Linked DNA regions of Homo sapiens. The protein of the gene in region 4 interacts with the protein of the main gene of each other region in a pairwise test. Each region holds a gene or a part of one and is shown on either strand. Other genes may lie near its edges. The genes, in order: CDK16, RIBC2, MX2, ATRIP, CINP and C1orf94.

What was found.
Region 1: the proteins of ATRIP (region 4) and CDK16 interact in a two-hybrid assay, tested with the Homo sapiens proteins (one large-scale study listed by BioGRID).
Region 2: the proteins of ATRIP (region 4) and RIBC2 interact in a two-hybrid assay, tested with the Homo sapiens proteins (one large-scale study listed by IntAct).
Region 3: the proteins of ATRIP (region 4) and MX2 interact in binary tests that used the Homo sapiens proteins (3 or more experiments, as listed by UniProt).
Region 5: the proteins of ATRIP (region 4) and CINP interact in binary tests that used the Homo sapiens proteins (3 or more experiments, as listed by UniProt).
Region 6: the proteins of ATRIP (region 4) and C1orf94 interact in binary tests that used the Homo sapiens proteins (3 or more experiments, as listed by UniProt).

The regions. Positions count from the first base shown.
Region 1 is NC_000023.11:47,220,016-47,225,180, forward strand, and holds part of CDK16 (cyclin-dependent kinase 16), read left to right. Parts: intron 1-269; exon of another isoform or gene 270-2,245; coding exon of another isoform or gene 2,246-2,327; exon of another isoform or gene 2,328-2,365; intron 2,366-3,035; exon of another isoform or gene 3,036-3,080; coding exon of another isoform or gene 3,081-3,296; intron 3,297-3,536; coding exon of another isoform or gene 3,537-3,542; coding exon 3,543-3,744; intron 3,745-4,369; coding exon 4,370-4,503; intron 4,504-4,602; coding exon 4,603-4,728; intron 4,729-4,818; coding exon 4,819-4,875; intron 4,876-4,972; coding exon 4,973-5,087; intron 5,088-5,165. UniProt on the Homo sapiens protein: Protein kinase that plays a role in vesicle-mediated transport processes and exocytosis. Regulates GH1 release by brain neurons. Phosphorylates NSF, and thereby regulates NSF oligomerization. Required for normal spermatogenesis.
Region 2 is NC_000022.11:45,416,185-45,421,349, reverse strand, and holds part of RIBC2 (RIB43A-like with coiled-coils protein 2), read right to left. Parts: intron 3,749-5,165; coding exon 3,404-3,748; intron 3,387-3,403; exon of another isoform or gene 3,173-3,386; coding exon of another isoform or gene 3,106-3,172; intron 2,054-3,105; coding exon of another isoform or gene 2,028-2,053; exon of another isoform or gene 1,991-2,027; intron 1-1,990. UniProt on the Homo sapiens protein: Microtubule inner protein (MIP) part of the dynein-decorated doublet microtubules (DMTs) in cilia axoneme, which is required for motile cilia beating.
Region 3 is NC_000021.9:41,359,731-41,365,361, reverse strand, and holds the start of MX2 (interferon-induced GTP-binding protein Mx2), read right to left. Parts: upstream 3,336-5,631; 5' UTR 3,307-3,335; intron 2,346-3,306; exon of another isoform or gene 1,946-2,345; intron 1-1,945.
Region 4 is NC_000003.12:48,451,582-48,456,746, forward strand, and holds part of ATRIP (ATR-interacting protein), read left to right. Parts: intron 1-147; coding exon 148-318; intron 319-2,718; coding exon 2,719-2,837; intron 2,838-5,165. UniProt on the Homo sapiens protein: Required for checkpoint signaling after DNA damage. Required for ATR expression, possibly by stabilizing the protein.
Region 5 is NC_000014.9:102,347,282-102,351,501, forward strand, and holds the end of CINP (cyclin-dependent kinase 2-interacting protein), read right to left. Parts: intron 2,768-4,220; coding exon 2,638-2,767; intron 1,479-2,637; coding exon 1,276-1,478; 3' UTR 1,001-1,275; downstream 1-1,000. UniProt on the Homo sapiens protein: Component of the DNA replication complex, which interacts with two kinases, CDK2 and CDC7, thereby providing a functional and physical link between CDK2 and CDC7 during firing of the origins of replication.
Region 6 is NC_000001.11:34,196,891-34,202,055, forward strand, and holds part of C1orf94 (uncharacterized protein C1orf94), read left to right. Parts: intron 1-334; coding exon 335-1,023; intron 1,024-3,881; coding exon 3,882-4,142; intron 4,143-5,165.

The DNA.
Region 1 (5,165 bases), on a different chromosome or scaffold from region 4:
TTAGTGGACGAAGGGTAAAGGTGATGTGAGGTGTGAGTGTGTCCATGGACACAGGGAATGTGAGTCTCGAGGGCACACTAGGAAGGAGCAGGGTAATAGAAGTACTGGTGGTTGCTAATGTGGGTTTAGAGACATAGAGGCACTTCAATGTGTGCCATTTCGAGAGTCAGCTGTGTGAAGTCTGGAATATGCTAATAAGCATCAGAACCTTGTGAAGATTGTGCCCTTGTGTCCGCGGAGGACCAGAGTATGTTGAGGTTCCAGGGGGTGCTACTCGGGGGTAGGGCTGCGGAGGGGATCTAGTGTGTAATAAGGGGGATCAGGGCTTTCATGAAGGGATCTAAGTGTGAACCAACAAGGATTATATCTGTGGAGATATCTCTGAGCAGAGAGCAATAGAGGACAGGAATGTGTGATGATCTCGGTGTGCTAAAGTGGATTACAGCTAGGGAGGGCTGAAGTGTGTGCTAATGGGAGTCAGGGCTGAATGAGACCTGTGTGCACTAATGAGGGTCAGGCCATGGTAGAACAGTGTGTTTGTGTGTCCCTGCGGAATAGGGCTGAGTAAGGGTTCAGGGTGCACTAATGGGGAGGCAGGACTGTGTGAGGCCCGGCGTGTGCTAATAGAAATCAGGCCTGAGTGAAGACTCAGTTTGTGCTGACAGAGGGGACAGGACAGTGGAAGGACTGGAATGTGTGTTAAGGATGGTCGTAGCTGTGAAGGGGCCTGAGTGTGGGTAACACTGGTTAGAGATCTATCTGTAAGGTTCACTTTATGTTAATAGCATTCAGAGCAGCATGAAGAAGGTCCAGTGAGTGCTAATGTGGGTCAGCTATAGAGTACCCCAAGTGCATGTTAATAGAGGTCAGAATCATGTAGGGGGAACAGTACGTTAATGAGGGGAGTCAGTACTATGGAGAAGGTAACAAGCAGCTAGGCCAGGGAGGGGCCCAAGAATGTGGTGGCAAGAGTTACTTAGAGGAGGCTAAGTGTGTGCTGACAGAGTTCAGGGCGGTATGTTATGTGTTAGGGCTTTGAATGCTGATGGGTATATGAGATAATAGCAGGTAAGATGTAGTGAGGCCTCCTTGAGGGTCTAGCGTGTATTAATGGGGATCAGGACATAGGGTGCGATGACCAAGTCCTTAGTGGTTGGTGTGTTGAGTATCCTTGAGTATGAGAGTAGTCTGAGGATGGGTGTATGTCTTTGGGGATCAGGAAGGGTCAGGCAGGACATGTGCCTTTTTTGGGGTAAGGTTTTATGTCCAGTTTCTTGCTCCCTCCTTTTTTGAAATCTAAAAAGCTCATTCAACTGAAATGATATTTAAAAGTTTCCTTGCGTATAAATGTTCAATTATCTCTGTTCACAGGGGCATGTCTGAGACCCCCATCCCCCTTTCTGGGAGTGTTATGTGATATACAGATTTTACACCCCATCTTCCTAAAATCCCAAAAAACTGAACTCCAGAGCATGTCCAGCCCTTGGGGTTTCCAGTTAGAGGTCGTGGACCCATGGCTCCTCCTGGCTTCCTCCCCATCCTCCATTCAGCCCTACTTCCAGTCTCCCCCAGCCCCTCCCCTACTCCCTGTCACAACATGCAAAGCAACTGGGTATCTGTGCCATATGGGGACACAAGGTTGTCTTTGGGAGCTGGCCATGCTTTACCTTCCTTGCCTTAGGCCCAGTATTCAGCCTCCCAGGTCAGGATGTTTTGTGGTTATCCTGGGTTCTCCATGGATGGACCTCATCCTGTATCTGAGGTCTTTCTGCTAGGGTGGCCCCTACCCCTCCTGGGGATAGTGAGTTCAGCCAGGTGGGGGCGAGAACTGCTGGGGGAAGCACCTGATTTCAAGGTAGCAGATGACCCATTTCTCTCCTCAAATCCAGCCCCAGTCTCATCCTCGACCTCCTATCTAGCTCTACTTCCCTTGGGCCCAGGGCCATCTTAGGCCCTGCTGTGAGTCCAGATGGTTCCTGGGTCAGGTCTTTCCCCCTCCTTGCTGGCCCAGAGCCCAAGAGGAAGCAGAAGACGGCTGGCCTAAGCCTTTTGGTGGCCCCATTCCCTTCAGCAATCCATCTAGGTCATCTTCCTGTCGATGCCAGCATCCCTGGGCTACCTTGTTTAGGGTTGTTCAATGAATAGCAGGGACTCATCACCTCAGCAGAGGTTGGTCCTAGGCCCTCAGCCCCCTGATTCACTTATTTCTGCCATAAGCACTTTTTGAGCATCTACTCTGTGTCAGTCACTATTCCAGGTCCTCAGGATATAGCCGTGACCTAAACACAGAAATCTACCCTGGCGGAGCTGATCTTCTAGTTGTGGCGGTGAGGAGATAGACAGTAAAGACTAAAGAAACCAATAAGTAGGTGGTGTCATTTCTGAGGAGGTAATGAGTGCTGGGGGGATAACTGGCAAGGTGAGGGAGTTCGGGATGGTTGAGATTTTAAATAGGGTTATTCACAGAGGCCTCATGAAAAAGGTGACCTTTGAGCAATGGCCCAAAGGGAGAGGGGAGTGAGCCATTTCGAAATTTAGGGGAAGGGTGTTCCAGGTACCAGGAACAGCCAGTGTAAAGGCCCCGAGGTGGGACTCTACTGGGTGTGGTTGCAGAACAGCAACTAGGAATGATGGCGGGGGGGTGTGGGGGTGGGGGGGGGCCGTGGGCAAGAGGCAATAGGGGCAAATGAGGTAAAGAAACACCTGTGGGCCACATTGAGGACTGGGGCGTGTATTTGGGGTGATGAAAAATGTACATTCTTGAGTAGAGGAGAAATGTGACTTGGCTTGTAAAAGTCTAGATTGGACCCTAGGGGTCCTAACCTGATCAAACCGTTCTGGCAGCCCTGAGAAGAGCTGGTGTACACTGAGACCCCCCCGCCCTCCACACAATCCCACCCAGTGGTTGGGTCTGGGCAGGACACCCTGACACACGCTCCCCTCCCCCCCCCCACCTGGGTAGATGAATGGGATGATGCAGTGGTTGTCATGACGATGAGTGCTAGAGAAGTCAGGAAGAGGGTCCCTGTGGCCACAGGGAATAGTCTGCCTTGGCCTTTGAGGGTGGTGCTAGGGGAACTATGCCACTCTATGGCCGTGCTCGAGACCATGTCACCCATCCTTCAATTCTGGGCACACGCCCTGGCCGACCCATGGCTGGGCCCATCACTGCAGCTGTACCTGAGAAGATCTGCAATGGAGCCTTCTGCTCCTGCAGTGGGGCTTTTCCCCTAGATCCCAACAATCCATCGTTAGGGCCCTTGCCCTCAATCAGCCACCTAAATCTGAGAACTCAGGTGGGCTACGTAGGAGCAGGGTCCCAGTGGGGCTGGCTGTGTGGGTGGGCAGGTACTGACAAAGATCCCCATCCATGCTGGGTTTCCAGAACTCCTGAGTGGCTCTGGGGTCCATAGTGGTTGAGTGAGCACTGACAAGTTCATGTCAGTGCCCCCTGCTAGGCTGTGGGCTTTAGGGAACCCATGGTGATCAAGCAAATGCTAATAAGAGACCCATTTCCATCCTTGTCCCTTGCTCAGATCGCCATGGATCGGATGAAGAAGATCAAACGGCAGCTGTCAATGACACTCCGAGGTGGCCGAGGCATAGACAAGACCAATGGTGCCCCTGAGCAGATAGGCCTGGATGAGAGTGGTGGTGGTGGCGGCAGTGACCCTGGAGAGGCCCCCACACGTGCTGCTCCTGGGGAACTTCGTTCTGCACGGGGCCCACTCAGCTCTGCACCAGGTGGGTCCACTGGCTATCCCCTCTCCCATATGGCCCCAGGCTGCTTCCCAGGTGTTGCCTCCTGGTCACATTCCTCATTTTCCTCTAAATTTTCTGCCCTTTCTCTGCCCCCCATGTGCTCTCTTCTCCCCCTTCCCTCCCATCTTCTCTCAACACCGTCTGTCTATCTGTCCATCTGCGCTCCTCTTCTTGCCTTTCTGCCCAGGCCCCGTGGTGGGGGACAGAAGGTGCCTTGCCTGTCACAGCTGCCCCAAGGCTCCCTCTGCCCTTCTGCCCTCTATGATGGCCTCCTCAGTCCTCTGGTACCTGCCTGCCCTGGGCCTGCCTTCCCAGGACCCTTGGCTTCCCCTGCCACCACCTAGCTGCCGGCTCTGAGCTCAGCTTGCCCTTGGAAGGAAGGGTTCCACTAGGTGACTTTTGCTTCCCCACCCCCCAGTTCAACCTGCCCTAGATGTACCTGAGCTTCCCTGGGCTCAGGTACATCACCCTCTCCCCGAGGGACTCCAGGTTTCCTGTGGGGGCCACGTGCACACATGTGTGATGATGGAATATGTTTCGTGGGGGATGGGGTGTCCTGTGGTTCCTGACCCCACCTGGCCTGCCCTACCCCTCTCCCTGCCACCAGAGATTGTGCACGAGGACTTGAAGATGGGGTCTGATGGGGAGAGTGACCAGGCTTCAGCCACGTCCTCGGATGAGGTGCAGTCTCCAGTGAGAGTGCGTATGCGCAACCATCCCCCACGCAAGATCTCCACTGAGGTGCTTGACCCCGTCTGGATGGTGGAGGAACTGGAAAAGGGGGTTGGACCTGGGGAGGTGGAGCTCATGATCCTGTTTCTCTCTTGCCTTACCTGCTAGGACATCAACAAGCGCCTATCACTACCAGCTGACATCCGGCTGCCTGAGGGCTACCTGGAGAAGCTGACCCTCAATAGCCCCATCTTTGACAAGCCCCTCAGCCGCCGCCTCCGTCGTGTCAGCCTAGTAAGCACCTTCTGTTCCCGTCCTCTCCTTTTTCTTCTCTCCCAGACCCTTCTCCTGAGCCAGCTTTAACCTGCCTCATTTGTCCCACAGTCTGAGATTGGCTTTGGGAAACTGGAGACCTACATTAAGCTGGACAAACTGGGCGAGGTGAGAGGCAAATAGGAGGCCCATGGTGGGGATGAAGGTCAGTGGGAACTCCTGGAATCTCATAGCACCTCTCCTGTCACACTTCCTCACATTCCAGGGTACCTATGCCACCGTCTACAAAGGCAAAAGCAAGCTCACAGACAACCTTGTGGCACTCAAGGAGATCAGACTGGAACATGAAGAGGGGGCACCCTGCACCGCCATCCGGGAAGGTACACACCCCCATCCCATCTGCCCCAGGCTTCCCCAACCCACCCCTGGCGCACACACTCCATAATGAGAACAAAGAC
Region 2 (5,165 bases), on a different chromosome or scaffold from region 4:
TTTAATTATTATTATTAATAATAGTATTAATAATAATAATAGTATTATTATTATTTGACATGGAGTCTCGCTCTGTTGCCCAGGCTGGAGTGCAGTGGTGCATCTTGGCTCACTGCAACCTCTGCCTCCTGGGTTCCAGCAATTCTCCTGCCTCAGCCTCCGGGGTAGCTGAGATTACAGGCGCGCACCACCACGCCCAGCTAATTTTGTATTTTCAGTAGAGACAGGGTTTCACCATGTTGGCCAGGCTGGTCTTGAACTCCTAACCTCGTGATTTGCCCACTTTGGCCTCCCAAAGTAAGAACAGTGTTGAATCACTTGAACCTGGGAGGCAGAGGTTGGCCAGGCTGGTCTCAAACTCCTGACCTCAGGGGATCCACCCACCTCGGCCTCCCAAAGTGCTGGGATTACAGGTGTGAACCACTGCACCTGGCCAAACTCCACATTGTTTAAAAGTATCACTGACTGCTGTTTTGGGAATGGACCAGAGAGGGGCAAGAAAGGAAGTGGAGGCCATCAGAAAGATCTTGGCAGAGGTCTGTTCAGCTGAGATGGTGGCTTGCATCACAAGGGTGACAGCAGGGATGGGGACAAGCGGACAGTTCAAAATATATGCAGGAGGTAGAAGGGACAAGAGTCAGAGATGGCCTGGAGTCAGGGGTGGGTCATGGATGATTCCCTAGACTTCTGGTTTAAGGGCAGGAGGTACCAGTTAGTTGGAGGAGAAAGATGGAAAAAGGAGCAGATGCAGAAGAGGATCCAGGGCTGCTTTCCGACATGTTGTGAAGGGTCCTGTGAGATGTCAAGGAGACTGCTGAAGAACCAAGTCCACAGCTGAAACAAAGCCTTTTGGCCAGAGGTGGAAATTTAGACCACTTGGGAGATGGATGAACCATACAACACGTCAGTGATCAAGGCTATGGAGAAAAATTAAGCAACAGGATACGGAATGTGGGGTGGGAGGAGGGTACAGGGTTTAAAATAGGGGGGTCAGGGGAAGCCTCACTGATAAGATAGCACTTTAGCACAGCCCTGGAGGAGAGTGGTGATCCCTACAGATATCTGGGGAAAGACATTTCTAAGCAGAGGGAACAGCACATGCAAAGGCCCTGAGGCAGAAGTGAGCCTGATATACTCACGTCTGAAAACAGCAAGATAGTGTGGAAAGAATGGAGTGAGAGGGCAGCATAGCAGGAGATAAGGCCAGACTGTGAAGGCGTTGTAGGTCTCTGAAAAAAATCGTTTACTCTGAGTGAAATGTTTACTCTGTAGGATAAGGGGAGAGACCCAAAGAGCAGCTGAGAGATGCTTTTTGTTTGTTTGTTTCAGATGGAGTCTCACTCTCACCCAGGGTGGAGTGCAGTGGCACAATCTCAGCTCACTGCAAGCTCCGCCTCCCGGGTTCACGCCATTTTCCTGCCTCAGCCTCCCGAGTAGCTGGGACTACAGGCACCCGCCACCACTCCCGGCTAATTTTTTGTATTTTTAGTAGAGATGGGGTTTCACCGTGTTAGCCAGGATGGTCTTGATCTCCTGACCTCGTGATCTGCCCGCCTCAGCCTCCCAAAGTGCTGGGATTACAGGCATGAGCCACTGTGCCCGGTCTTTTTTTTTTTTGAGACAGGGTTTCACTCTGCTGGCCAGGCTGGAGGGCGGTGGCACAATCACGGCTCACTGTAGCCTTGACCTTCCAGGCTCAGTGATCCTCCTGCCTCAGCCTCCTGAGTAGCTGGGACTACATGGGCACGACACCATGCCCAGCTAACTTTTTAATTTTTTGTAGAGATGAGGTCTCACTTTGTTGCCCGGGCTGGCCTTGATCTCTTGGCTTCAAGTGATCTTTCCTCCTCAGCCTCCCAAAATGCCGAGATTACAGGCATGAGCCACTGCGCCCAGCCGAGAGATGCTGATAGCCTTAGTTCAGAATGGGAATGTTGGAGGGTGTGGAAAGTAGCTGAAAAATGGAGAGAAAGGAAGGAGTCAAGATTACCTGGGCTGGGGCCTGGGCAGCTAGAAGAAAGGAGCTGTCACGGATGTGGGTAGAAGGTCAGGTCTGCAGGGAAGAACAGAGTTATTGGACTCGTGCTGATCTTGACAAGTGCATTAGACATCCAAGAGAAGTTAGATGAATTTATGAGTCTGGATTCAGGGAAGAGTCCAGGCTGGAGGTATAAACCTGGGAAATGATGGCCTATAGGTGGCATTTAAAGCCATGAGACCGGACAAGATCACTCGGGTGAGTTTAGCTGGTAGAGGAGAGCACTGGTGTGAACAACATCCAGAGGTTGAGCAGATGAGAAACCAACAAAGGACCTGGATGGGAAGGGAGCTAATGTGAGAGTGGTGTTCTGAAAGCTGAATTGCATGCGCATTTCCAGGAGCAGGAGGTGATCGACTGTTAGGTCCAGATGAAGGTCAAAAACCGACCTTGGATTGGGCGACATGGAGGTCACTGGTGAGGTTGGCCAGGGCAGTTCCAGTGGAGCAGGGAGGGCATAAATCTGGTAGGAGTGGGAGAAGAATGGGAGAAGATGATCTGGGGAGACATCACTCATGGAGAGTAGACTGGGGAGAGAAGAGGCTTGGAGGAGGATGGGCCGAGCAAGGAGACTGCAAACTAACAAGCAGAGAGGAGGCGCTCAAGAAGGCGGAGTGCATTCCTCTCTGTGCCTGGTCCCTGTTTTGTCTTCCTCATAGCTCCTCACTATTCCATCACCCGCTGACACACCCCAAGAGAGCAGGGATGTTGTCGTCTTCGTTACCCGGTCTTTCCGGCACAGAAGTGGCTGGGCGGGTCAGTGCTGCTCGAGTGCAGGCATGAAGAGGAGCTGGGAGAGCAGAATGCTGCTGACCTCAGTGAGGACACATGGGGCTTTCTGCAGTTCCCTCAATGAGAGGCTGTTTCATGCCTTGGAGCCTTTGCCCAAGAGGTTCCCTGGGCTTGGGGAGTCCTGGTGAGGGCATGTGACCACCATGCCTGCAACTACACCCCCAAAGTCCCCTGTAGGAATTTCTACCACAGCACCCAAGAGACTCAGGAAGACCTGCATCTTTCCCATTCACCTTCCCCGCAGACTGGGAGGGCAGGGACCGATTCTGAGTTACCTCTGCACGCCGGCATCCAACTGGGACCCCGACACGGAAAGTGTTTTCCACATGACTGAGGTGTCATTGCAGGTGTTTCCCTCCTGGAGGGCAGGCTCTGACTTTTCTTTCCCCACAGGGCCAAAGTAGCATGTGGCTGTCTGTGCACATTGGTAGGACTTTAAACAAATCCCACAAAAACTGTAGGGTTGCTTAAAAAAAAAAAAAAACTGTAGGGTTGCTTAAAAAAAAAAAAAAACTGTAGGGTTGGTTTGTTGAAGAGAGCGTTGAGACCAGCTCGTCTCTTCTGTTTCATTACCTGCGCATTTTTGTTCAGCACGGGCGTTCTTCCATTCCCTTTGCTGCTGCAAAGACCATTCTCTGTTTTGTTCCTCTTGGAATTTCTTCCTCTCATGGAAGTTTAAATCCTCTCCCATGAATTTCTGCATTCCTGATATCGTATTCCGAACATCATTATCTGACTGCCGGGCTGGAAGATCTTTCTTAAGGGCTAGGGGGTCGGACAGATCAAATTCACGGCGAGTTTCTGGCTTCTGAAAGCTCTGTTGGAAGTCATTGATAGCCCTACAGAGATTTTTCCTATCCCTCTTTTTCCGGTTTTCCAATATGCACATGATTTTGTCATTTTGCCTCATTTCAGCAGCTGGAAGAGATACAGCATATCCATAAGCTTAGGATTCAGAGGAAAAAATAAATTTGAATCCATTTTATTTTTTATTATTTACTTTTTTAGAGATAGGGCCTCATTATGTTGCCTGGGCTGGTCTCCTGGCCTCCAACCATCTTTCTGCCTCAGCCTCCTGAGTCACTGGGATTATAGAAGTGAGCCACTGAACCCAGCCCATGAATCTACTTTAAAAACTAATTTTTTCAGTGATTGCAAAAGTAATACAACCCTCCAAAAAAGTAACACAGCCATTAAAGGATTAGTATCCTGAATATACAAAGAGTACCTACAAATCAATTAAAAAAACCCCAAAACCCCAACCCAATAAATGGGCAAAGTGTAGGAACGGCCAGGCAGATCACTATAAAGAAACCTGAGGCTGGGTGTGGTGGCTCACACCTGTAATCCCAACACTTTGGGAGCCCGAGGTGGGCGGATCACCTGAGATCAGGAGTATAAGACCAGCCTGACCAACATGGTGAAACCCTGTCTCTACTAAAAATTCAAAATTAGCCGGGCGTGGTGGCAGGAGCCTGTAGTCCCAGCTACTCGGGAGGCTGAGGCAAAAGAATCGCTTGAACCCAGGAGGCAGAGGTTGCTACGAGCCAAGATCACGCCGCTGCATTCCAGGCTGGGTTACAGAATGAGACTCTGTCTCAAAAAAAAAAAAAAAAAAAACCTGAGTAATCAATACAATTATGAAAGGATGATCACCCATACAAGGTGGGAAACATCCAATGAATCGAAGGCAAAATATTTAAAATGCTAATAATGGCACACATTAGTAAGGATGTGGGGAAACAAGATCTCTCATTTGCGGCCAGGCATGGTGGCTCACGCCTGTAATCCCAGCACTTTGGGAGGCCGAGGTGGGCGGATCACAAGGTCAAGAGATAGAGCTTATCCTGGCCAAGATGGTGAAACCCCGTCTCTACTAAAAATACAAAAATTAGCTGGGCTTGGTGGCACGTGCCTATAGTCACAGCTACTTGGGAGGCTGAGGCAGGAGAATCGCTTGAACCCGGGAGGCAGAGGTTGCAGTGAGCCGAGATCGCTCCACTGAACTCCAGCCTGGTGACAGAGCAAGACTCCATCTCAAAAACAAAACAAAACAAAACAAAAACCTCTCATTTGCTGCTTGTAGGAGTGTAACTTGGTACACTTACAACGAAACAATTTTTCAATATCCCATAAAACTACCTTTGATCCATCAATTCCACTTCTAGTTATCCCTTTCACATGTGCTAGGGACACAATTCTTGGACAGTCATTGCAGCAGTGTCCACAATGACAAAACAACTGAAAAAAAAAAATCTAAACCAGCCATCAGTATGGGAATGGATGAAGAAACTGTAGTTAATTCATATAACAAAATGCCATAAAACAATTAAAA
Region 3 (5,631 bases), on a different chromosome or scaffold from region 4:
AAAAGCTATCCATTGGCTACTACGCTTATTACCCGAGTGATGAAATAATGTGTGCACTAAACTCCCATGACACAATCTACCCATGTAACAAACCTGCACATGGACCCCTGAACCTAAAATAGAAGTTAAACAAACAAACAAACAAACAAACAAACAAATTTTCCTGTTTTATAAGGATACCAGTCATATTGGATTAGGGCCCACCCTACTGGAAAACAACCTCGTCTTTAATTACATCTGCAAAGACCCTATTTCCAACTAAGGTCACATTCAGAGGTTCTGAGGTTAGGATTTGAACATATACATTTGAGGGGTGTGATGGTTAATACTGAGTGTCAACTTGATTGGGTTGAAGGATGCAAAGTACTGATCCTGGGTGTGTCTGTGAGGTGTTGCCAAAGGAGATTAACATTTGAGTCAGTGGCTTGGAAAGGCAGATCCACCTTCAGTCTAGGTGGGCACCATCTAATCAGCTGTCAGCAAAGCTAGAATATAAAGCAGGCTGAAAAATGTGAAAAGAGAGACTGGTTTAGCCTCCCAGCCTACAGCTTTCTCCTGTGCTGGATGCTTCCTGCCCTCGAACATTGGACTCCAAGTTCTTCAGGTTTTGGGACTCACACTGGCTCCCCTTGCTCCTCAGGCTGCAGATTGCTTATTGTGGACCTTGTGATCCTGTAAATTCATACTTAGTAAACTTCCATATATATGTATATATTTATTTTTTTATATTCCATTAGTTCTGTCCCTCTAGAGAACTCTGACTAATACAGGGAGCCTAGTTCAACCCATAACAGGTACGTAGTGACTGAAAGTAGTACAGCAAGAAAATCAGCCCAGGCCCCACCTCCTGCAGCGCTGCCCCGCCCCATCCCTGTCCCTGTCCACGCTTGAGGAGCCGGTGCCTGTCCCCGATGCCCAGGATGTGCTTAGTCCATCTTCCACCAGGGTCCTCAGGAGCCTGAGAGTGTGGTGAAAAGGGCAGCCTGGTCACTGTATTGATTTCTATTGAGGGCTGGAAAAAAACTCCAAAAGTGCAAAGGGGAGGGAGTTTCCCTACATATGCTTAAAGCCATAACTTGGCAATTCCAGAGACCTTTGCAAAGAGAAATCCCTCTTTCCAGGCGCATCACTGGAGAGGAAGGCCCTGCGGGGTGAAGGCCCAGGAAGCTGGTGGTTACCCAGCTTAGGCAGCACTGAGGTGAGGGAGTCCAGGCAGAGGTGGTCAGAAGTCATGGTGAATTCATGACTGACACTCCCTGATGCCCCCGACGAAGGCAGAAGCCTCTGGCTCCAGAATGCTTTTGGGTCTATCATCCCCCCAAATTCTCAAGAGAGCCTGTCCTGCAGATGAGGAAACTGGGCCATGGGGAGATGCTGGAGGCCTTGTGGGGGCCCCAGCCCAGGGCTGGGAATCGGGTCTCCACTGCTGTCTCTGACCTGCACCTGACACTGCATCCCAGGGTGTTGAGATTGGAGGACAAGCACACACATTCCCTGCTGAGTTTGGAAGTTTGACTGAGACTGCCAGGATCACGTAAGCACCCCTGGGAAGGATGGAAATGGCTGTGCCGGACATGGTGGTTCCCGCTGAAGTCTAAGGCAAGCTGCGTCTCCCACACGGGCATAGCCACTATTGCTGGCTTGCAACCAGTCCGAGAGCTCTGCCGGGTCCTGGGCACCAGGGGCCACTCTGCTGTGTCCCTTTGCTCCAGTCCCAATGTCACTCGCATGGTGCAGGGTCATGGCTGACCAAGCACTGGCACTGAATGCGACCTTATCTCCCCGGGCTCACCTCCTTTCTTTTTAAGACCGCTTGTTTTTCACCCACTCAAAGATATATATTGAGCACTAAGTCCTTGAGATACATATCGAGTCAGGCAGACAAAGATCTCTGGGGGAGCTTGCATTCTAGGGCAGGGGCTAAACCTAAATAAAGCTCACATACATCCTGGCCAGACGCAGGGACTCACACCTGTAATCCCAATGCATTGGGAGGCCGAGGCAGGAGGATCACTTGAGCCCGGAAGTTTAAGGCTGCAGTGAGCTATGATGGTACCATTGCACTCCAGCCTGGGAAACAGAGCAGGAAGACCCTGTCTCAAAAAAGAAAAAGAAAAAAAAATTGTACATCCGAAGGGAGTCAAAAGTGCTTCAGGGGTTGGCGCGGGGCTGGGAAGTAGAGCAGAGTAAACGGAGGAGAGGGTGCGAGGAAAGATAGCTTGGAATCCTGATCTTTTTAAACAGCTAGAGACAACATTCTAAACACAAAATGAGAAAGAACAGTGTTCAAAAGGTGTCATCAAAGCCGAATGGGGTGGCTTACGCCTGTAATCCCAGTGCTTTGGGAGGTTGAGGCGTAAGGACTTCTTGAGCCAGTGAGTTTGAGACCAGCCTGGGCAACATAGAGAGCCCCTGTCTCTACAAAAAGAAATAAAATTAACCAGGTGTGGTGGTGCACACCTGTAGTCCCAGCTACTTGGGAGGCTGAGGTGGGAGGATCCCTTGAGCCCGGGAGCTTGAGACTGCAGTGAGCCATGATCACGCCACTGCACTCCAGCCTGGGGAACAGAACGAGAACTTCTCTCAAAAAAAAAAAAAAAAAAAAAAAAAAGAAAAAAAAACTGCGTCATCAATACCACCATGTCTCCTTTCCGCTCTATATCAATTATAAAATGGACTTCAGCCCCCAGAGTGCAGGCGATCCAGGGTGCAGTGGTCCAGAGTGCTGGAGTTGGCCCCTACTGGCTGGGAACTGGCCACGGTGGGAGCATTCACACCATGAGAACGGAAGAGAATCGGCAAAGGCTAGAAATCAGGCACCACCCTCTGCCCTGCCCCGCCCCATGAGAGCCAATTTCCCAGCATATCACCGTCACTAAGGTTACGTCAGAGCATCACAAATACCACAAAAGAAGGAACACTTGAAACCCTCCGAGACGACTTTTCGGGCACAAAGCTCCTTACTCAACCCCCAGACTTTGTAGGACGCTGAGCAAAGCTGTCCTAAAAACCACCCCTTTGCGTCCACCCGACTTTTGGCCAGATCAGGATGGAGGCCACCCTGTCCCCAGGGCCAGCCACTTCCCCTCCAGAGCCTCTTTGTCTGTGCACAAGGCTACTGTGGGCTGGTGGCAACATGGGCCCTTTCTGCTCCTCACACCAGAATCTTATCTTTGTGGCTCCTGCCTCCCAGCACAAGCCACATTCACCAAGCAGATGTCACGTTACTCAGGAAATATTTTTTAAACACGCATCTGCTGTGCATCAGACACAAAGCAGCCCTCCCTGCACCGGCCCCGCTCTTACCGCTGCACGTTCAGGATGGAGAAATCATCTCTTCCCTTTCCTCCACTTCACTTTTATGTGGCATATGAACCACTCCCTCCCCTGCTCCGTCATCAACAAACAGGGAGAGAAATGAAACTACTTGATCTGGCCACAGAAATGAAACTGAGTTATCAGCGTGCTCTCCAGATGACTCACAGAGTGGTCCCCAAACTCCAGCTGCATCCGAATCCTGGGAGAGCTGTGGAGACGGGGCGGCTGTCCCCCCACCCCCGCCAGAGAGTCTGATCTGTCAGGTCTGGGCTGGGCCTGAGAATCAGCATTGCTAACAGATTCCAGGGGAGGCTGGCATGGGGGCAGCTCAGAGTGGCTCAGTCACTGGAAGGTTCTGCCCTGACAGTGCCATCCAGTACCACCTGTGTGGCTCTGAAATGTGACTACTGCGACCAAGGAACTGGACTTCGAACTCCATGTAATTTGAATGAATAGCCACGTGTGGTTCGTGTATCGGGCCTCACAGATGCACTCCTGTTACAGCCGAGGACATGCTCTCAGGTACATGATCTGGACGCTCTGAGCTGTCCTGCTTAGCTTCATGCCTGAGCCGCACCTGACAAATGTCACCTCTCCCCTCATTAGGTGCGGAAAACCCAAAGAAGGAGGGTCAACAGCTTTCTCCAAGCACCCGTGCCTGAGGTCCCCGCCGCAAAACCAAGACGGTTTTCTTCCCATTGGAGATAAGGAGGCCCCAGGACAAACCCCAGGCTCCGGAACTCAGCCCTGAGCCAGCTGCATGTCATCTTTCTGGTCCTCAGTTACTTTTCACCTGCAAAAGTGAAGGTGCACAACCGCATGCTCCCTAAGGCTTCCTGCTCTGTGACCAAAGTCAAGGAGGGCCAGGCATTCCCATCACCAGAGCCAAGAGGTCTGGGAACCTCCAGGAGGAGCCCTCCAGACACCGGGGAGGGGACCAAGCCTCTCAAGGACTGGCAGTGATGGCTGGGAGGGAGGAAGCAGGCTCTCAGCTCTCCTATCCACCCGTGATCCTCTCCCAGACATCAACACTATACGTTTAAAAAAACTCCTGAGCTCCTCTTGGCTAAGTCATTGTAGTGACTTCCCTTGAGTGCAGGCTTAACTTTACGGAAGATATTTAGAAACTTAACATGTTTTTCAAAACCTTGGCATTAGAAATATTAACACCAGGAGATCATCGTCAGGATCACCTATCCCTGAACCACTTCTCTTCCCAAGAGCCCGGGCGGACAGAGGCTGAGGAGTGAGGGGAGGAATGTGAATCTCAGACTTGGCAGCGTGATGTGACATTCGGTTTCACTAGGAATGTCTTTCACAACAGGGCCTGGGCCGGCCTACTGCTTCAAGGAAGGCACAAAGAAAGGCCTCAGAGAAGCCGGACAGAGGGACACGAGCAGCTCGGGCCAGCTCAGGGGACCCTCCACCCTCTGTCAAGGCAGCATCCCCCTCCTGCACGCCCCTCACCAGCAGCCCTGGGAAGGACCAGAGGTGCCTGCGCATGCAAACTTCAAGGACAGGGTTCTTGCGTTCTGAGCACTAAAGCCCTGAGGGTGAATGAATGTCCCACGCAGCATCCAAGCACAGGGGCCGGGGCCAGAAAAGATGCTGCTGCTCAGGCCTCGGTCACAGCCGCTGGGCGGAGCTCTTCCCTCAGCTCCACATCAGGGAGCGTTACAGTGTGCAGCTTGGTAAAGAGGCGAAGTCCAGAAGCCCCAGTGCCCGCCTCCTGCCCTGGCACGCTGACTCTATGGAAAGCGCCAGCGCCTCTGTGTGCTGATGAAGTTCCTGGCCACCTGGAAGCACCTGCAGCACCTGGAGCCATCCAGAGCCAGCATGCATCCACTCTCCCATGGCCTCTCCAATCACAGAAGGAAAGATCAAGCAAATGCTTTCCTGAATTAACAGGACAAAGGCAATGGTGAAGTGCTGTAGACAAGCAGGGTTCTTACCTGGGGTGTGTCCCTCCCAGCAGAGCACAGGAGCAGCGGGTGCACCTTGGAGTGGAACTCCACCCTGTCATTGTCCGTGTGACCTGGCTCTTTGTTTCTTTTTTGTTTGCTTGAGATGGAGTCTCGCTCTGTTGCCCAGGCTGGAGTACAGTGGTGAGATTTCTGCTTACTGCAACCTCGGCCTCCCAGGTTCAAGCAATCCTCCCACCTTAGCCTCCCAAGTAGCTGGGATTATAGGCATGTGCCACCATGCCCAGCTAATTTGTTTTGTATTTTTAGTAGGGATGGGGTTTTACCATGTTGGCCAGGATGGTCATGAACTCCTGACCTCAAGTGATCTGCCCACCTTGGCTTCCCAAAG
Region 4 (5,165 bases):
TGACATCTGGTTGCTGTGGATATATTTTGAGTACTCATTTGTCTGTTTTTCCTGTGCTTTCTCCATCTCCCCAACTACATGTTAAAACAAAGTACCTAAGTAGTTTTCTCTTACAAAGTTTTCACGAGATTAATTTGGGATTTACAGATGAAAGTAATGGAAGAAGAAGTTCTCATTAAGAATGGAGAAATTAAAATTTTGCGAGACTCACTACATCAGACGGAATCCGTTCTAGAGGAACAGAGAAGATCACATTTTCTTCTTGAGCAAGAGAAAACCCAAGCACTCAGTGACAAGGAAAAGGAATTCTCCAAAAAGGTGACCCAGAGCATTTGTTTTGCACCAGCTTTGCCTGCCCACTGAGTTCCTTTGACCAGGGTTGCCTGTAAATCTTCCAGGGAGATTTCAACACTTGTTTGTCTTAAATACTTTCTGCTATCATCTCATTGCCATCCACTCTTCTTCCAGGGTCTGGATATATTTTGGAAAGGGATTTAGATGAAACTCTATTTTGCTGTGGTAGTTGGTCTTGGCAGGAGTAAATAACTAGCTTAGCATTTCTAGAAACAGGTTTACATTAAGGCTCTTTTGCTAGATCAGAAACTCAACTGACCTGGCTTAGGCTAAAAGGAAACGTATTGGCTTCCATATCCAAGTCTGGGAAGAACCGGGGTATGCTGGGACCTTAAATGACTTAAATCTTGCCAGGACATTTTTATTCTCTATGCTATAAACAGGCTCTATACTTATGGTAGAGGGTGTGTTCTCCAGAAGCTCCTGGGCTCATATTTTATAAATACAGAGCAGAATTAAGACTTAGGGCCACATGCAGTGGCTCACACCTATAATCCAGCACTTTGGGAGGCTGAGGTGAGAGGATTACTTGAGCCAGGAGTTCGAGACCAGCCTGGGCAACTAGTGAGACCTCATCTCCACAAAAAAGAAAAAGAAAAAATGAACAAAATTATCCAGGCATGGTGGTGTGCACCTGTAGTCCCAGCTACTCAGGAGGCTGAGGTGGGAGAATTGCTTGAGCCCAGGAGGTTGAGGCTGCAGTAAGCCATGATCATGCCATTGTACTCCAGCCTGGGCAATAGAGCGAGACCCTGTTTCAAAAAAAGACTTAGGCTCCCTCATCTCAAGTTTTAAAATTCTGAGAAAGGCTCTGATTGGTTTAACTTGAGTCAGTTGTCTGTCCCTGGCCAATTGCTATAACCAAAAGCAACCAAAAGCAAAAAAATGACAGCTCCCATTCTAATAAAATAGTCAGAGGTAGGGAAATTATTGAATTTTTTTTTTTTTTTTTTTTTTTTTGAGACAGGGTCCAGGGTTTCACTCTCTTGCCCAGGCTGGAGTGCAGTGGTGCAATCACAGCTCACTGCAGCCTTGACCTCCCAGGCTCAAGCAATCCTCCCATCTCAGCCTCCCAGGTAGCTGGAACTATAGGCACACACCACCAGGCAAAGCTAATTTTTAAATTTTGGTACAGACAGGGTTTTGCTGTATTCTCCAAGCCGTTCTCAAGCTCCTGGGCTCATGCAGTCCTCCCACCTTGGCCTTCCAAAGTGCTGAGATTACAGGCGTGAGCCACAATGCCCAGCCTGTTTCTCAGGGAAAGGAAAATGCTATTCTGGAAGGAAAAACAGTAGGTATCCAGTACCTACTACAACTTTCCCTCAGCACCTCCTCATGCTTCAATCTCAAGGACATGGGATCTTATTCTCATTGTTTCATTCAGCAAACTTAGCAAACTTTAAGCACTTACCTGTGCCCATCATTAACCGCAATAGTTAACTTTCTGTATAAGTGATGAAGAGCAAGGAATTTGCGGTCAGACAAACCTGAATTTGAATCCAGGCTTCATCACACATAAGCAGTGACCTCAAGGTAATAACTTAAGCTCCCTGGCTCATTTCCCTTATCTGTTCCAAGACATAACCAGAAAGGTTGTTGGGAGACTCACACATTCTTGCACTTACTGTGTCTGGTGCTGGGCCTGGCGCAGAGTGTGCTTGGGGAATGATGGCAGTTACTGTTGGCTGTAGCAACTGCAGGCCAGAGCAGCAGGTCTCTCTATACTGCACAGTGTCTTGGTAAACTATTCCAACTACTCTGCCCAAACTTTGAGGAAGACCTGGAATTGTGCACCAGTGCGTTCGTTAATAAAGGTCAATATGTTACTGCTGACATAGGGCACCTTACCAAGCTCTATGCTGGGTATTTTACACTCATCATTCTACTTAATCCTCCCAACTATCATGAAGACAGGTGTTTTATGTTACAAATAAGTTAGGATTCAAAGACATTAAATAAATGGTGGGCTGGTATTTAATTCTTTTTTTTATTTTTTAAATTTTTTGTAGAGGCAAGATCTTGCTATTTTGCCCAGGCTGGTCTCGAACTCCTGGGCTCAAATGATCCTCCCGCCTCAACCTCCCAAAGTGCTTAGGATTACAGGCCTGAACCACCACACCCGGCCAGGGCTGGTATTTAAACCCTCACAAACTACCCTTACAATAGAGTCCAGTATCTTTTTAGAGTACCATATTGTCTTTCAGAAAGAAAGCTAATGTTTAATATTTTAGGACATTTATGTCACAGCAGACTTTCATATGTATTTTTCATTGTTTGTCTTTTACTGGCTTGTGATTTTGAAGCCCAGAGATATTTTTGTGTATATGATGGGACCACTACAAGCATGTTTCTTTTGCCTTCCAGCTCCAATCATTGCAGTCTGAACTCCAGTTTAAAGATGCAGAGATGAATGAATTAAGGACAAAGCTCCAGACCAGTGAACGAGCAAATAAACTGGCTGCTCCCTCTGTTTCCCATGTCAGGTAATGATGGTGCTGGAGGGATAGTTCAGTTTTGCATTATTTAGTAAAAAATCTGCATAACAGTGTCAGGCTGGTCCTAAATGAAGGCCATTTAGACCCCTCCACCTGGGCAGAGATCCTCTTTTCCTGAAGGATTCAGAGGTGGTTTAGATGAAGCTTGCATGGTTTGAGACATCACAGCATAAAGGCCTATACTCTAGAAATGCTGCCTCTGTATGGCACTTTATAAACATAATTCTTCAGGACTAGAAAGACCTGGAAAAATGATCTCCAAATTTTGGGGGTGGGCTAGTCTCTACTTTTATGTAATTTGTTTAACTGATTTTGTTGCAAGCATGGGTGTATTTTAGTTCCAGCTACTTGGAATATTTTTTTCTCATTTGCTTTCTGGGGACCCTTGTCCAACAGCCCCATCCTTTGTGGTCAGATGTGCTCAACTTGTTTTTTTTTTCTTTTTTTTTTGAGACAGAGTCTCGCTCTGTCACCCAGGCTGGAGTACAGTGGTACAATCTCGGCTCACTGCAACCTCCGCCTCCTGGGTTCAAGCAATTCTCCTCCTTCAGCCTCCTGAGTAGCTGGGACTACAGGCACACACCACCACGCCCAGCTAATTTTTGTATTTTTAGTAGAGACGGAGTTTCACCATGTTGGCCAGGCTCGTCTCAAACTCCTGGACTCAAATGATTTGCCAGCCTGGGCCTCCCAAACTACTGGGATTACAAGCATGAGCCACTGTGCCTGGCGCAGCCTGGAAATTTGAACAGTGTCAGTCAGGGCATCTTCTGGTTTTGAACTTTCTACCGCCTTTGTTCATAATGGGCAGTGTGTGAAACTGAACTCTCCATGCCTTGCATTGTCCACATAAGACAAGAGAACTGAGGGGATCCTCTTCACACATCAGTAACAGAAAGACCTCAGCATTATATGATCAGATCAGAGAGTTAATACTGCTTCTCTACCATAAAGACATTGGCACTAAGTTGCTCAGTTTTCAACATACCTAGTAGGTTTATCAAAATTATGATATTTATTTTGATAGCCCTTTTTCTATTTAAAGTCTTTGCATTCTATTGGAAGTCTTTTTTTTTTGAGACAGAGTCTCACTCTGTTGTCCAGGCTGGAGTGTAGTCACATGATCTCAGCTCACTGCAACCTCCACCTCCCGGGTTCAAGTGATTCTCCTGTCTCAGCCTCCCAAGTAGCTGGGATTACAGGCACATACCACCACACCAGGCTAGTTTTTTTGTATTTTTTTTTTAAGTAGAGATGGGATTTCACCATGTTGGCCAAGCTGCTCTCGAACTCCTGACTTCAGGTGATCCACCCACCTCAGCCTCCCAAATTGTTGGGATTACAAGGGTGAGCCACTGTGCCCAGCCTGGAAGTCTTGTGACTATTAAAAAATCGTTTGTTCCACATTGGCTGGGTGCAGTGGCTCACACCTGTAATCCCAACACTTTGGGAGGATGAGGCGGGCAGATCACTTGAGGTCAGTAGTTCAAGACCAACCTGGCCAACATGATGAAACCCTGTCTCTACTGAAAATATAAAAATTAGCTGGGCATGGTGGCATGCGCCTGTAATCCCAGCTATTTGGGAGGCTGAGGCAGGAGAATCACTCAAACCTGGAGGCAGAGGTTGCAGTGAGCCAGGATCACACCACTGCACTCCAGCCTGGGCAACAGAACAAGACTCCATTCCAGAAAAAAAAATAGTTTGTTCCACATTGAAAAGATGTTTTGCACCAGGCATGGTAGCTACAGAGGCAATCCCAGCTACACAGGAGGCTAAGGCAGGAAGATTGCTTAAGGCTAGCAGTTCGAGACCAGCCTGGGCAACATAGCAAAACCCCATTGCTACTTAAAAAAAAAATAAAATTACTGGCCCCAGTGGCTCACGCCTGTAATCCCAGCATTTTGGGAAGCTGAGGTGGGCAGATCATTTGAGCCCACGAGTTCAGGACTAGCCTAGGCAACATGGTGAAACTCTATCTCTAGAAATAACTCTATCTCTAGAAAGAATAAAAAGTTAGCCAGATGTGGTGGTTGCACATCTGTAGTCCCTGTGCTACTCAGAAGGATGAGGTGGGAAGATCACTAAGCCCAAGAGGTGGAGGCTGCAGTGAGCCGTAATTGTGCCACTGGGCTCCAGCATGGGCAACAGAGTGAGACCCTGTCTCACCAAAAAAAAAAAAAAAAAATTAGCTGGCCATGTTGATGTGTGCCTGTAATCCCAGCTACTCAGGAGGCTGGGATTACAGATGGGTGGATTGCTTGAGCCCAGGAGGTCAAGGCTGCAGTGAGCTATGATCATGCTACTGTACTCCAG
Region 5 (4,220 bases), on a different chromosome or scaffold from region 4:
AAGAGTTTAGGCTTTTGCAGGCTCGGCGCGGTGGCTCACGCCTGTAATCCTAGCATTTTGGGAGGGCGCGGTGGGTGGATCACGAGGTCAGGAGATGGAGACCATCTTGGCCAATGTGGTGAAACCCCGTCTCTACTAAAAATACAAACATTAGCTGGGTGTGGCGGCGCGTGCCTGTAGTCCCAACTACTCTGGAGGCTGAGGCATGAGAATCGCCTGAACCCAGGAGGCGGAGGTTGCAGTGAGCTTACATCGTGCCACTGCACACCAGCCTGGTGACAGAGCGAGACTCCATTAAAAAAAAAAAAAAAAGTAGGCTTTTGCATACCTTCACATTCTCCCCATGCCCTAGCTTTTGGCCAGTCTCTTCGGTCTGTTTCAAAACTGTCACCTTTCCCTCATTCTAACCTAGTATGTTAACTCTGGAAATGGCTGCAAACATTGTGAAACTCGAGGATTTGTGTCAGAAGAATGCCAGGGAAGGCAGTTTACATCGCTTGCCATGTCCCCAGTATGCAAACAGCGGCAATTTTTTTGTAGGTTATTTTCATTTTCATGATGTCAAACTTCATTTTAACTCCATGGGATCTTATTATTTAAGACGAAGTCTCACTCTGTCGCCCAGGCTGGAGTGCAATGGCTCACAGCAGCCTCTGCCTCCCGGTTCAAGCCATTCTCCTGCCTCAGCCTCTCAAGTAGCTGAGATTGCAGGCACGCGCCACCACGCCAGCTGATTTTTGTATTTTTAGTAGAGACAGGGTTTCATCATGTTGGTCAGGCTGGACTTGAATTCCGAACCTAAAGTGATCCGCCCACCTCGGCCTCCCAAAGTGCTGGGATTACAGGCATGAGCCACCGCACCTGGCCCAAAAACTAATATAGTCTCATAAAAACTTCAACAATCAGATAGGCATAAAGTAAAAATATTAAACCAGGGATTTTCTACACAAACATAATGTATAAAGCATGCCTAATTTATAGAAACTAGATCACTCACTCATTCTGCTCAGAAACTCATTGATTTTACTCTGAAGCACCCACGAATGACAGATTCCCAGGAGGGGCAGAGAAGGCTGAGCAGCACCACGTGGGGCTGGCCGCGGGTTGTGGGCATGAGCACGCCTGGAGAGGCCATGGGGCTGGTGACAAGCTCTGGCCAGAAGACCCCAAGGTCTGATCCTGGGGTCTGATCCAGGCCTGCGGCACTGGGTCCTAGGCAGACTGTCTGCCTGGTGAGACGTGGAAGGAGCCAGTGTCCGCAGCCGTCTCAGGACGTCAGAGAGCTCGGTGGCCTGTCTCCAGCAGCATGCTCTCCAGATGCAGCCTGCTGTCGCTCTCCACATAGGGCTGGTGCAGCCACATGGACAGGTAGCTCAGGGTGAGGTCGGGATCCCCGGTGTGGGCAAGCTCCTTGGCCACCGTGCGCTTCAGGAGCAGCTCCTTCCTGTACATCTCCAAGAGCTTATGCGAAACCTCATCTGAAAGAAACGTGAATCTCCCTTAATGGCAGTGATTCAAGAACATAGTGTCGACTTGGGAAGAACTACATTTTAACAGCTCTTGATTAAAAACCAGAATCAGCAACAGCACTGAGGGGAAGAAGGGCCCGATGGAGTTTACTACTCTAGCTGGTGCAGATTAGTACAATTTGATAACATGGTCAGCAGAGTGAAATAAAAAGTGTATACAAGCCGGGCGTGGTGGCCCACACCTGTAATCCCAGCACTTTGGGAGGCCCAAGTGGGTGGATCACCTGAGTTCAGGAGTTTGAGAACAGCCTAGCCATCGTGGCGAAAACCTGTCTCTACTAAAAAATACAAAAACTAGCCAGGTGTGGTGGCACGCACCTGTAATCTCAGCTACTTGGGAGGCTGAGGCACGAGAATCGCTTGTGCCTGGGAGGCGGAGGCTGTAGTGAGCCAAGATTGCACCACTACACTCCAGCAGGCGTGACAGAGCGAGACTCTGTCTCAAAAAAAGTATATATAACCTTTTCTACTTGACTCTTAGGTGACCTACAGTGATTATCAGTAGGAGATTCCCCTCAAACTGACAATATTTCACTAAACACATTCCACTAGGTGATTTTACCCTTTCCTGCCTTATTTAAAAAGTCTCAGGTCAACATCAAATAGCTTACCCTTGTCTTGAACTAATAAAAGCTAAAAGTAACCCTTTAAGAAGCGCCTCATAGAGTTTACTGAAGCCATGGGTTTCATTTTTCCCAGTCATCTTCCATGAGGTTGGCTGCAGTGACCCTCAATTTGTTTTTTAATTAAAACAAAAAACAAAAGAAAAACCTCAACAAACCAAAAAAACTCCTTTCTTCCTTTCCCCCCCTCAAAATGAGAGATATCTGCTTCCACAGAGGAGGTGGAATTCACTCTGCCCATTGGTTTTAGAGGCCTAATAACAGCAGCTTGCTTCACGGGTCTCTATGTTTCATATACTCTGCTGATAACCAGGTAATTAAAGCCAAGAAGAAATGTTTAAGATGCCTCTGTCTCCTTTCCTCCCGATACTTTTGCATTGAATTTGAAAGCCTTGTCAGCTTCTTAAAGTACCAGATGTAAACGATACTAAATGCCCTTAATAACCTTTACCCTCCTGAAAATCAACTGAGAAGGAACTACTTACAGAAATGGGTTGTAGGCCACGTGTGGAACAGAGGGGGTCGTTTACTCTCCTCCCCATAATGGTAGTTTTCTAGTTCACAAATTCCCTTGGTAGTTGAAGACAGCTTTTCCATTTTCACCTGTATTTTGGTCTGAAAGATATCCATTTGGAATATGATAATATTATTTGAAATCTCCAGTCTCAGATTTAATAACTCTAAGATTTCAAAGCTAAGAAGTGTAAGTCTATTATGATAAAAATTCCAATAACTAAACACTGTTAACTCTACGTACAGCAAATTCCCAGGGAGATGAAGGTGGACAGTTGCTATGATTTCATTAATTTGAATGACTTTGGTAATAAACCCCAGATTTCCAGTCCTAGAGCAAGAAAGGTTTCCGAGTGCCATTTCACTAGGATTTCCAAACAGCATTAATGTCTTAGACCCAAAGACCTGGAGGAATCCCAAGGCAGGCTCTTGCTGCCTTTTTTTTTTTTTCTTTTTTTTTTTGCGACAGGGTCTCATTCTGTGTGGCATGATCATGCCTTATGCAGCCTCAACCGCTGGCACCTCAGCCTCCCAAGTAGCTGGGATCACAGGTGTGCACCACCACACCCAGCTAATTTTTTTTAATTTGTGGAGACAGGGTCTCGTTATGTTGCCCAGGCTGGTCTCTAACTCCTGGGCTCCAGCAATCCTCCCGCCTCAGCCTCCCAAAGTGCTGGGATTATACAGGCATGCGCCACCGCGCCTGGCTGGCTCTTGCTGCTTTTAAGAAGTGAGAGAGAAAGGCATCAAATGAGCTCGTTTCTGATGCTCTCTCTCTCTCTCTTTTATCAAATGAGCTCGTTTCTGAGGCTCTCTGTCTCTCTATCAAATGAGCTCGTTTCTGATGTTCTCTCTCTCTCTCTTTTTTTTTTTTTTTTTTGAGACGGAGTCTTGCTCTGTTGCCAAGCTGGAGTGCAGTGCCAGGCTGGAGTGCAGTGGCGAGATCTCGGTTCACTACAACCTCTGATTCCCTGGTTCAAGCGATTCTCCTGCCTCAGCCTCCCAAGTAGCTGGGATTGCAGGCATGTGCCACCACGCCCAGCTAATTTGTGTATTTTTAGTAGAGACGGGGTTTCACCATGTTGGCCAGGCTGGTCTTGATCTCCTGAACTCGTGATCCGCCCACCTCGGCCGCCCAAAGTGCTGGGATTCTAGGCATGAGACACCGCACCAGGCCTGACTCTCTCTTATTAACTGCCTTTATTTACGGAAACCTCCTTGACTTCCTTGTTTATAAAATGGCAACACAGAAAGGGAGCCCTACACACTTCACGCAGAAAGGAAGGAAACGTGGCAAGCTGCCATTGACGGTCCCTCAGTGTGGACCAGGCTCTGTCCTAAGCCCTGTAACTGCATGATGTGTATGGCTACTTGTGGGAGACACTAAACCAACCCCACTGCACACACCAGGCAGCACAGAATAGGGGCAATGGCGGGCTTACTTTCACAGCTTGGTGAAGAGGATTAAGTGAGTTAGTATTTGTGAAGCACCTACTTGGAGATATATAAGGGTTGGATAAAGAAAATTAATGGGTGAAGTAACTAGGATTTCAGA
Region 6 (5,165 bases), on a different chromosome or scaffold from region 4:
TTCATTGCTTCAGGTTCTGAGCATGAAGAACAAGGAGGAATGGACTAGAATTAAGGCTCAGTGAGGCTGTGACTTGCCCCAGCTCACTCAGCAAGGTTGTTGGGAGAGGATCCAGGTTTCCCCATTTTTCAAAACCATGCTCTCAGTGCTGCATCCTACCGCTGTGGTATAGGACCCTCTGGGGGTCCAGTGTGTCTGCTGGGTTATCTTGCCTGGAAGTGTGTTTTTGTCATGTTATGCATCCATCTCCCTTTTCTGGGGCCTATGTCCTTCTGCAAAGCCACGCCTTGGTGAGCTGGCACTAACACCGTCTGTCTCTCTGACCCATTTCCAGAGCTCTGGAGCTCAGCAGTGGCAAAGATGAGATCTCCTTGTTGGTGGAACAGGAGTTCCTAAGCCTCACCAAAGAGCACTCGATCCTGGTCGAAGAGAGTTCTGGGGAGCTGGAGGTACCCGGCAGCTCTCCCGAGGGGACCAGAGAGCTGGCTCCCTGCATTCTTGCCCCTCCTCTAGTGGCAGGCAGTAATGAGCGCCCCAGAGCCTCCATCATTGTCGGAGACAAGCTTCTGAAGCAGAAGGTGGCCATGCCCGTTATCAGCAGCAGGCAGGACTGTGATTCTGCCACTTCTACTGTCACAGACATTCTGTGTGCCGCCGAGGTCAAGAGCAGCAAGGGGACAGAGGACAGGGGCCGCATCCTAGGTGACTCCAACTTGCAAGTCAGCAAGCTTCTGTCCCAGTTCCCACTGAAGTCCACTGAGACATCCAAGGTCCCTGACAACAAGAATGTGCTGGACAAGACAAGGGTCACCAAGGACTTCCTACAGGACAACCTGTTCAGTGGCCCTGGACCCAAGGAGCCCACAGGGCTGAGCCCATTTCTGCTGCTGCCTCCCCGACCTCCTCCTGCACGTCCTGACAAGCTCCCTGAGCTCCCTGCTCAGAAGAGGCAGCTCCCAGTGTTTGCCAAGATCTGTTCCAAGCCCAAGGCTGACCCTGCTGTGGAGAGGCACCACTTGATGGGTGAGTGGGGTTGGAACTGGGGTAGAGTGGGCCTGCAAGGAGGAGGTCCTTCCCAGGAAGCCAATCAGGGCTGCAGCATGTACATAAAGCATCTTCATGCAAAGCAAGACAAAGCAGCCTCTCTGGTGGGCACAGCCCCGAGGGACGGGCTGTTTCCAGCCCCCACAGGCTTATTTTGCTGGGTTCCCCTGTGCAGGGCACAGCTTTTGTAAGCAAACCCAGAGGCCCTGATCTCAACATACTTTGAGAAGAGAAATAGGCGCCATGTAGTAATTGGCTTAACTTTGGAATCAAACGGGTGTCCAGAGTACATTGAAGGAAGTGTTTACCCTAGCTGGGTTCAGGGTGAAACTACAGCATGGAGATGCCAAGATGTATAGAAGAGAAATTTGATTGGTAGCTGGGGTCATTTGGCATCTATCTCATGGAGGTACCTTGAGGACATGAGGCCTGGTCCTCCCTCTCTGGGGTATTGGGTAGATGCGTAAATTATCCAGGCATAGTGCAGACTGTTGACTCTGGGATCTGTTTCCTGGGACTTACTTTATTGAGGAGCTCACATTCTTCCCAGGAAAGCCAGCCACCTCCCAAGCTTCTCCTACTTTATGCCCAGGATTCTGTGTGTTGTTCTGATCTAACCAGTCAGACTATATGGTTCCAAGAAGGTAGGCTGATGGCCATGGCCATTGCCTAGAGTCAGCAGTCACTAAGAGAGTGATCATACTCATGTTAGCCAAAAGAACAATTTCCTCTGGGCTATGAGCATGGATGGATAACTGAGAGACACCCGTATTGGGAGGGTCCAAATTAATCTACCTGAGAAAATAAGAGCAAAGTCATCCTGAACATTCTGTGTCCTGGAGCATTGCAGGAAGGCCAAGGAATCAGAGCTGTGGATAGCAAGCTGAACTCTGGGTCCTGGACAGGCTTCTAGGAGCCAGAGGGCTTTAGGATGGGGAGCTGTAGGAGAGAGACGGTTGAGCTCTTCCCAGAGAGGAGACCTTCCTCCTACCTCTTCTCCAGAAGGGACCCATAGATATTTCCCTGTTGGATGGGGCTGCTGGACTGGAGGCAGTTCTGGTCCCACCCACCCCACCCACCATTGGTGCATGTCTGTGTGTACGAATGTGTGAGCAAAAGTGTGCCAAAAGGAGTTTTGAAGGTTTTAGTGTATTTGTTAGAGAAAATGCAAGAGTGGTGTGTCTAAGCATGTCTGTGTACACATTTGTGCATATGTCTGTCATGTATGTACTTGTGTATGTGTAACTAAGTCAAAGGAACAACAGATAGGAGTGTGTCTATGTCTGTGTGCCCAGACCTGGGACGAGGGAGCTTCGTAGATGTTTAAGGCATCTGTAAATATGAGTGGGAAGCTGCAGGTGTGTGTGTCTCTGGGGAAAGGGCTATTATCAGTGGGTACTGTTATTTCAGCTCACAGGCTAGGGGCTGAATTCGGCAACCGGAGGAACTCCTGGAAAAGACTCTAGGGATGTTTTGCTAAAAATGTTGTTTCCTTCTAAATTGGCTCAGGCTAGAGCAGCTCTTTCCTTTGCTGGAATAGTGCTAGGAAGACAGCCTTAGCCCCGAAGCTCAGCCCCCAAGCCGCTGGGCTAGGGGGCCAAAAGCTGGTGGGATCTGGTCTATTATTATCAACAGGTAACACTGAGGCACAGGTCCTTTCTGGCTGCATCCAGACAGATCCCGGTGCCTGCTATTGGGCAGCACAGTGCACAGCCATCTGGTGGGTGGCCAGGTTTCCCACCACTGCTGTGGAGGATCCTGTGATGGTCCCCAAAGTATGTCTGCATTGGGAGAATAAATGCTCAGTCTCTTTAGTGAGAAACCTGTGTCTGCCACCAATCTTGTCCCTGCTCCACACTCTAGCCATATCCAGTGACTCACAATGTCTCCTTGATGCTTCCAGGCCTTTGCCCACAGTTATCCCTGCCTGCCATGCCTTCCTCCCCAATACCCCTGGATGTAAGGCCTCGCTGCAACCCTACTTCCTTCTGGAAGGAACCTTCTCAGACAGAAGCAGCCTCAGCCACCCTGTTCTCCATTTCTTCCCTCTGCCACCTCATGGTGTTCATCTACCTTATCCTGGGGCTATTTCTGGGCATGTCTCTCTTTTTTTCTTGTTATGAGCTCCTGCAGGGCACAGTCTAGCTCTGACTCACAACTGTGTCCCCAGCACTCAGGTCAAGGCCTGGCACTGACAAGTGAGCTGAATCACCTGTGAGTAATAAAACAAAAGTAGAATCCAGAATGAGAGACCAAAGTGTGTGGCTCAGACCACATGTTCTGTAAGAATGTGTGACTCCTTCACTAAGCCATGTGCTCACTGAAGGCAGGAACTGTGTCCACAACATCCTTGTTTTCGCAGCCTGGCACTATGGATGGTTGGAGAGAAGGAATAGTGGAAGGAATGAGGAAAAGTAAGGAAGGAGAGGAAAGAAAAGAAAGGTAATTCGAATAAAGGAATGATGGAAGGAAGGATGAAGGGGTGGATGGATGGAAGGAAGGCAGGAAGATAAAGATGGATAGTCAGACAAATGGATGGACAGATGGATGGATGGATAAGTAGACGGATAGAAGGAAGAAAGGCAAAGATGATGGACAGATGGGTGGATGAATGAACAGATGGATGGATTGATGGATGCATGAGATCGGGGGGCAGGGGCCAGGGAGGGTTTCAGGGAGAGATTGGGATTGTATTTGGCTGAAAGAGAGTCCCCCAAAGTGGTCCAAGCCTCAGGTGTGTGCTGCAGAGGATTCATCATTTAGTCCACAAAAAGGTGCTTCCAGCATCCAGCACTTGGCCTTCCAGAGGCATTGACTCAGTTTCTTTCCTGCTACAGAATGGAGCCCTGGCACCAAGGAGCCAAAAAAGGGTCAAGGGAGCCTCTTTCTCAGCCAGTGGCCCCAGAGCCAGAAGGACGCCTGTGGTGAGGAGGGTTGCTGTGACGCAGTGGGCACCGCATCACTGACCCTGCCGCCCAAGAAACCTACATGTCCAGCCGAGAAGAACTTGCTCTATGAGTTCCTTGGGGCCACCAAGAACCCAAGCGGGCAGCCGAGACTTCGAAACAAAGTGGAAGTGGATGGGCCGGAGCTGAAATGTGAGCTGACCTACCCAGGGAGGGATTGGAGGGGAGGGGGTTGCAGTGACCCTCACAGGCTTCAGGGTGGCTCTGTCACCAAGTGGCTGTCTTATCTACTGCCTTTCTAGAGGTGTCAGTTTTTAAACCCATAAAATGGGGGCAATGACTTTCTCCCCATATCCCTTGTTGGGAATACAGTTGCTAGAGAAGTGTAGTTGGCTTTCAAGGGTCACGTCAGCATTATTAATGGTCACTTCTGAATATAGCCCTGACCCAGCATGTATTATATCCTCTCAAATTGCCCAAGCCAAAACAAAAGATCCTTGCTTTAGATTATTTCTATATTGAGATTATGTTCCCGCTTTCTTTTCCTACAAGGGTTCTAGTCAAACCTCTTTTCCCAAAAGGATGCCAATAAGGGGAAACTGAGGACCCATTTCTGATTTTATAAGCCCCCACAACATCTTGTAGAAAGGAAGAATCCAGGATTCTGATCTTGAAACAACTCAACCTAACTTCATTTGTTTAGACCAATTTTGAGTCACTGCATGCTGAATTATTTAATGTTTTAAAATATAATTTTTAAAATTCCCATATAGATACAACAACCTGTGAAAGTTTCTTAGTGTTGCCAAATATATGTCCTTAGGGAGGGGCTGCTTTAATCATTTGATAAGGATGAATTCCAATGGCATAGCAATGGTTCACATAAAGTTGGATTTTTCCAAAGCAGTTGAAAGAATTTCATTTTGTAAGTAGGTGAAATATAGGCCTAGCAATCTGGCTTATTGTATTCCCTTGCTAAATTGCCTTCTTTACTAGTGAATGATGGAAAGAAAAGCTCCAAGCCAGACCTTCTGGGATTTTCATCCCTTCCAAACTGGCAAGGTGTGAACTAATGATGTTTACCTATAGTTGGAAATGTACTAGAACTTTGAAGAACCCTCTTGGAGCTTAAAGGACCTGACCTGTGAGACTGTGAATCCCTAAGGAAGTTGCGATGCTGAAGGTGTCCTGGCCTCTCCCTGCCTCCATCACTGA